2 linked regions of the Homo sapiens genome follow. The protein of the gene in region 1 interacts with the protein of each later gene in a biochemical or structural test. Each region holds a gene or a part of one and is shown in the gene's direction. Other genes may lie near its edges.

Region 1 (3,648 bases):
ATTTGAGCCAGGTTTTGAAGGATGAATAGAAGTTTGCCAAGCAGGGAAGGGCATTTCAGGCAGAGGGAACGGAATGTGCAAAGGTGTGAGAAGCTGGAGTATTAACGGAAGCACCACTGGGGCATCTGGCTAAGCAGTGGGGGGACAGGGAATTGGGGTGGAGGCTGCAGAGGCTGTTGGGGCCAGAGTATAAAGAGCCTTCACAGGTTTGGGCTTTAACCCACCAGCCAGTGCGGCAAAAGTCATCAATAGGCCGGGTGCAGTGGCTCACACCTGTAATCCCAGCACTCTGGGAGGTTGAGGCGGGTGGATCACTTGAGGTCAGGAGTTTGAGACCAACCTGGCCAACATGGAGAAAACCCCATCTCTACTAAAGATATAAAAGTTAGCCGGGTGTGGTGGCACACGCCTGTAATCTCAGCTGCTCGGGAGGCTGAGTCAGGAGAATTGCTTGAGCCTGGGAGACGGAGGTTGTGGTGAGCTGAGATTGCACCACTGCACTCCAGTCTGGGTGACAGAGTGAGACCCTGTCTCAAAAAAAAAAAAAAGTCATCAATAGCTGCCACCTGAAAAGAGGCTCTCTGGTCCATCAGAGAGTCCCAGTGAACCAGGAGGCAACAAATGCTCTGATAAGTCCGCAGCCAAGGAGCTTTTTAAACCTTCATTTATTTGGGATTCTCCCCATTTCTTGGGAATTAGGAAAGCAAGAGAGAAAGATGATGGGTTAGATGTGGGTTTTTGGAGGAGCCCTGGCTCTGATGTGGAGAAGAAAGAGAGCGATGAGGCAGAGAGCTGGCCAGAAGGAGCCAAGGGGATGCAGGCCAAAAGTACTGCTGCTGTGCCCTGGCCTGGGGACTTGGTGACCAAGCAGAGGGTGAGGAGGAGAGAGCCGAGCAGATGATGGCCAGTGAAGAGCAGGTTTGGGGAGTGGGGCCCAGATGGGGGTTGCTCAGGGCCTGTGGAGACCCTTCATGTGGGTGGCTGAAGATGCTGAGCGACGTCATGCAGGACTGGGGGGAGGAGAGAAGAGGGCATGGGAGAAGGCTCTTAGACGGGGTTGGTTGGCATGCGGCTGAGAACCATGGGGGTTAGTGGGGTCAGAAGGCCTGCATGGATGAAGCAGGGGAGCTGCTGGATGTTGGGAAGCGGGAGGCAGCCAGACCTCAACTCTGGCCTAGTTGGGGGAGGAGTGCCTGGTCTGAGTCCCCAGAAGTAGAGGGAGAGGCATATGCAGAGCCTGCAGAGGGTGGGACTTTGTACACCTGGCATGAGATTAACCAAGCTCTCTTGCCCAGTAGGGGCAAAACAAGGGTTCTAGGGGTACAGCTCAGCTTAGTTCGAGGTCTGTCCCAGGGATGGCTGGGGCCAGCTCCCTTCTCTGCCTGGCTCTGGGTTCCTTTGGAAGCCGGGTGGGGGAAGGGAGGCCTGCCCCTCCCCATGCATCCTCTCAGCTGCTGCATCTTCCCTGTATGCAGGGGTGAGGGAGAGGGGCAAGCCCCAGCCAGCCCCCGTGACCCATTTTGCTTTCCCCTAGCACATGTGCCCTGAGCGGGCTGACCCGCACCTGCCGCCACCGAATCCGGCTCGGGGACTCCAAAAGCCATTACTACATCTCGCCATCTTCCCGGGCCAGGGTGAGTCAGCCTTTGCAAGCGTTACTTGACTCCTTTGGGGCCACCTGGGTGCTGGGACACTGGGCCCTGGGCCTGGGAGTATGAATAGCACTACACCTTGATTTACTTATTTTATTTATTTATTTTTTGAGACAGAGTCTTTGTCACCCAGGCTGGAGTGCAGTGGCACAATCTCAGTTCACTGCAATGTCTGCCTCCCAGGCAGACATTAGCAATTCTCCTGCCTCAGCTTCCCAAGTAGCTGGGATTACAGGCATGTGCCACCACGCCCAGCTAATTTTGTATTTTTAGTAGAGATGGGGTTTCACCACGTTGGCCAGGCTGAACTCGAACTCCTGGCCTTAAGTGATCTGCCTGCCTCGGCCTCCCAAAGTGCTGGGATTATAGGTGTGAGCCACCACGCCCAGCCTTACATCTTGATTTACAGAGCAGGGTACAGGCTCAGAGAGGCGCAGAGACTGACTCGGGCCACACAGCCAAGCCAAGGGCAGTGGTTTGCTATTACGGTGTAACAAATTACTATCAACCTGGTAGCTTAAAATAGCGCAGTTCCCCATGTTGGAGTCTAAGCACTACTTACTTACTGGATTCTCTGCTCAGGGACTTGCAAGGTCGCAGTAAGCTGTCAGCAGACTGTGTTCCTTTCTGGAAGTCAGGGTCCTCCTCAAAACTCACATTGTTGGCAGCATTCAGTTCCTTGTGTTTGAAGGACTGAGGCCCCTATTTTCTTGCTGGCTGCTGGCAAGGGGACACCCTCAGCTTCTAGAGGACACCCGCAGTCCCCTGCCACAGGGCCTTGTTGCACAGGGCAGCTGACTTCAGAGCCATCAGGAGGGCCACTCTCCAGTCGGCTGAGATGCAGCCTTATGTATGAAATGTCATGGGATGACATCGCCCCCCTCTGTCATTCAATGTCACCTAATCCAGGAGTGATGCTAGAGTTCCAGTTAGAGTGCGGGGCTCCTGACGCCCAGACTCAGGTGCTGGCCGAAGCTTTGGAAAAGGTTCAGCGGTGCGTCTGGTGCACCAGCCTTAAGTCGGCCGTGAGTGCCAAGGGGCCTCTAGGAATCCCAGCTCCCACCCTCCCCTGCCGAGTGACCCAGACCAGGACAGGGGTTCTCACCAAGCTGGGGATTGAGGACAGGGATTCCTCTTCCTCTGTCCCTCTGTTGACTCTTAAGAGGATTGAGGGGAACAAGAGAACATGTTTGGAAACACGTTTCCAGTGACACAGCTTGAGGAACCATCTCAGGCCTGCTAGAGGCTCCTCGCAGGGGAGCAGGTCTAAAGGGGACAAATGGTCCCTTTGCTGGCAGCAGACTATACTGTCCTTGATGAACTCCACAAGGCATCCGAGCGTGAGTCCTCCCAGCGGTGTGCTGAGCACCCATTTACCAAAAGGGAGGCTGAGCCTTGGCAGAGGAAAGGGGTGTGTTCAGGGCCACACACCGAGACCTGGGATCCTGGCTCTGAGTCCACTGCAGCCCCTACCCTGTGGATTTGTGCCCACTGAGCCTTGTTCAGTGGCCACTTATCTCCATCACCGCTTTCCAGGCCCAACCATGGCTCAACAGCAGGCCCCACAAAAGATGTTCCCGTGCTCAACAATGTCACCTCTAGCACTTTAAGTCCCTGGCCTGGGTGTCCTGCTGCACTGGATGAAGCTGGGGGTGGGAGATGAGGTGAGGAGGGTCTGAAGTTTTAGGATGTGGTCCCTGCCCTGAAAGACCAAGACATGTGGGGTCCACAGGGAGAAGTGTTTTCTCCCTAGCACACTCCCTGGAGAGGGAAAGCCCCCTCCCTGCTACTCCCTGCTCATGAGCCTCTGTGGGCATCCACTGTCCCTGCTCCTGTCCTGAGCTCTGCCCTGCCCCACCCTCCTGCCGCAGCCTCTCCTCAACCCTCCCTGTGCAGCGGTGTCCCTGCCACGACGGGCTGGTCCCCCGACCTCGCCCCGCTCTCTCGCACCTCCCTATCTTTGCCAGGCCACCACCGTCCCGCCCCTCCCCGAAGC
Region 2 (3,648 bases), on another chromosome or scaffold:
CTCCCTAACAATCTAGCATGAAGGTAAATAAATAGTCTGTATATTTATTCAGAGAGGATTTGATATACAAGTTTTTTACTTTAAGATGGTGCAAAAGCAATACAAATTTGGTAAAAACCATACTTTGAATTTTGATTTTTGTCTGAGCTAGCAATATGTGCTATGATACACTGGTGATGCTAGGCAGTGGCAGCGAGTCACAGCTCCCAGTCAGCCACACAATCACGAGAGTGAACAACCAATACTCTATAGTGGACTGTGTTGTCAGATGATTTTGCGGAACAGTAGGCTAATGTAGGTATTATAAGCACATTCAAGGTAGGCCAGACTAAGCTATAATGTTTGGCAGGTTAGGTGTATTAACTGCATTTTCAACTTAAAAAAATATCATCAACTTAAAAGGGGTTTATCACGACATAACCTCAGCGTAAGTTGAAGAGCATCTGTGTATGTGTGTATTTCCAGGAGTTGATATTGTCAATGGTGTTGTCAATGTTAGTGACATACATAGTCACTTCTTGTTATTTGAGGTAGTTATGCTCTGTTAAGTTGCTACAAATATTGAATTAGCAAATACTAAAACACTGCTTCTAGAAGAAATATGTAGTGTGTTTATATGTATATGTATGTGTGTATATATATCCATCCATCACTTTAAAAACGTGAAATTCATGCATTTTACATAATTCAAAAATCTTAAAATCTAATTTACCATTTTCTTTTGTTCGTTTGTTTTTTGTTTTTGTTTTTGAGACAGAGTCTCGCTGCAGTGCCCAGGCTGGAGTGCAGTGGCACGATCTCAGCTCACTATAGCCTCCGCTTCCCAGGTTCAGGCAGTTCTCCTGCCTCAGCCTCCCAGGTAGCTGAGACTACAGGCACGCGCCACCATGCCCAGCTAATTTTTGTATTTTTAGTAGAGATGGAGTTTCACCATATTGGCCAGGCTGGTCTCGAACTCCTGACCTCAAGCCCACCTCAGCCTCCCAAAGTACTGGGATTACAGGCGTGAGCCACCACTCCTGGCCTAATTTACTATTTTGTATATTTTAAAAATTCACACCCAAGTCAGTTCAGTCCTGTCTGCCTTTCCTACTTTTTTATAACTCACAAATCCATTCTCTCCTTTTCCACCATAGAATAAGTAATGGTTGATATTCTTAGCTTTTCAGTAGATGTGATGGTTGAAATCATGGGCTTTGGAGTCACACTGACCTAGTTTTAAACCCTGGCTCTACCCCTTAATGGCCATGTAATCATAGGAAAATTATTTTTTGTGTCTACCCTCCATTTTCTCACATGTAAAATTGGTGCAAGAACCCCATGAAGCATGTACTTCGTGGGATTACTATGAAGATAAACAAAATTATACCTAGGCCTTAGTCAAGCACTCAGCCCACACAGTCAGCTCCACCTGCCATAACCTCCTCCAGTGCTCCCCACACTTATTATATAACCTCCTCAGTCACCTCTCTGACAATACCTGTTTTGTATTATCACCTCATTTCCTCTATTCTTTCAGACGTCCCATGTCCGTTCTCTACGTGGTTCAAATTCTTATTCTCTTTAAGGCCCCCATTTTGTGCTTCTCCTGCTTGGGCACCCCCTTTTTACTCATTCCAGATTCTCATAGCATTTTAGTACATACTTGTTTCTGACACTTTGTTTCTTGTTTGCTAGTTATGTTCCTATCTTGCTGCCTCTTTCAAACTAATTCTCCTTGAGGTCCATTCATGTCTGATTCATTTTCTTCTTCCCAGAGTCTTATACAGAAGTTGCTCAATAAATACTCATGGCTAGGATCAATTTGAAAGTTTGATGTTATTTTAAGAGTTTTGATGAGACCCTGGAAACAATTGTAAATAATTTTCAAATTGGCACAGTTCATATTTTAACAGATTTCATTGCATTCTCCTTCCTAGGTAGAGTTTAAAGAGAATTGTACTGTAACATTTTCAGTTTCCTTAATTTGGAGTAAATACTTTGAGGTTTTTGGAAGCACCCCAAAGCTTTCTCAAACACTTCCATACCCTGTTTATGGTAGTATAAATTGCCATAGCACGTTTTTTTAGAGAGTGATTTGGCAATATCTGCCAGAATTTTTAATGCACTTATTCTTTGACTCAGCTATGCCCATTGTTAGGAATTTACTCAAGATTACCTCTAGAAGTACCAAGTGCCAAGTTCAGGATTATTCACTCTACTCAAGAAAGTAATTAAATTATCCACACTATACAGAAATTAAACGAGTATGAAGCTGTTGGTGTTGATTTACAAAGTGCTACAAGATACATTAATAAGTGAAAAGAGCAAGGTATATAAAGTGATCCTGGCCAAGCACAGTGGCTCATGCCTGTAATCCCAGCACTTTGGGAGGCTGAGGCAAGAACAAAACTTGAACCCAGGAGTTGGAGAGCAGCCTGGGCATAGCGAGACCCCATCTCTACCAAAAAAAAAAAAAAATTAGCTGGGCATAGTGAGACGCACCTGTGCTCCAGGGTACTCAGGAGGTTGAGGTGGGAGGATCGCTTGAGCCCAGGAGGTCAAAGCTGCAGTGAGCCATGTTCATATCACTGCACTTCAGCCTGGGTGACAGTGAGAGCGAGACCCTGTCTCTAAATTAAGTTTTCTCTTTTGTAGACATTTTAGAAAATCTTAAGTCTGTGAATATATTGGCCTTTTTTCCTCCACAAAACACACACAGACACACACACACCCCCCCCCCCCACACACACACACACAAATCATCAGTAAGTTACATTTGGGGAAAAGAAGGAAGAGGGACTTTTTTTGTTTTGTATTTTTCCTTTTTGTGGTGTGTAAGATGTGTATATATCAGCTGAGTATATCATGATACAGGATCACAGACCTTAGAGGATTTTTCTTTATATTACTTTGCATTTTTTAACCCAAAGCATTTATGAAATTACTGGGGTAGGGAAAAGAGAGTTTTCTTGTGATTAGGAGTGGATAGGTGAGTTTAAAGTATTCAGACTTGATATTAGCCCTTTGTCAGATGAGTAGATTGCAAAAATTTTCTCCCATTCTGTAGGTTGCCTGTTCACTCTGATGGTAGTTTCTTTTGCTCTGCAGAAGCGCTTTAGTTTAATTAGATCCCATTTGTCAATTTTGGCTTTTGTTGCCATTGCTTTTGGTGTTTTAGACATGAAGTCCTTGCCCATGCCTATGTCCTGAATGGTATTGCCTAGGTTTTCTTCTAGGGTTTTTATGGTTTTAGGTCTAACATTTAAGTCTTTAATCCATCTTGAATTTTTTTATAAGGTGTAAGGAAGGGATCCAGTTTCAGCTTTCTACATATGGCTAGCCAGTTTTCCCAGAACCATTTCTTAAATAGGGAATCATTTCCCCATTTCTTGTTTTTGTCAGGTTTGTCAAAGATCAGATGGTTGTAGATGTGTGGGATTATTTCTGAGGGCCCTATTCTGTTCCATTGGTCTATATCTCTGTTTTGGCACCAGTACCATGCTGTTTTGGTTACTGTAGCCTTGTAGTATAGTTTGAAGTCAGGTAGCATGATGCCTCCAGCTTTGTTCTTTTGGCTTAGGATTGACTTGGCAATGTGGGCTCTTTTTTGGTTCCATATGAACTTAAGTAGTTTTTTCCAATTCTGTGAAGAAAGTCATTGGTAGC

What was found. The genes of interacting proteins can lie anywhere in the genome.
Region 2: of the proteins of RAB3IL1 (region 1) and MAP3K1, one has a biochemical effect on the other in vitro, tested with the Homo sapiens proteins (one large-scale study listed by BioGRID).

Annotation. Positions count from the first base shown.
Region 1 is NC_000011.10:61,900,428-61,904,075, reverse strand, and holds part of RAB3IL1 (guanine nucleotide exchange factor for Rab-3A), read left to right. Parts: intron 1-1,534; coding exon 1,535-1,634; intron 1,635-3,648. UniProt on the Homo sapiens protein: Guanine nucleotide exchange factor (GEF) which may activate RAB3A, a GTPase that regulates synaptic vesicle exocytosis. Promotes the exchange of GDP to GTP, converting inactive GDP-bound Rab proteins into their active GTP-bound form.
Region 2 is NC_000005.10:56,888,437-56,892,084, forward strand, and holds part of MAP3K1 (mitogen-activated protein kinase kinase kinase 1), read left to right. Parts: intron 1-3,648. UniProt on the Homo sapiens protein: Component of a protein kinase signal transduction cascade. Activates the ERK and JNK kinase pathways by phosphorylation of MAP2K1 and MAP2K4. May phosphorylate the MAPK8/JNK1 kinase.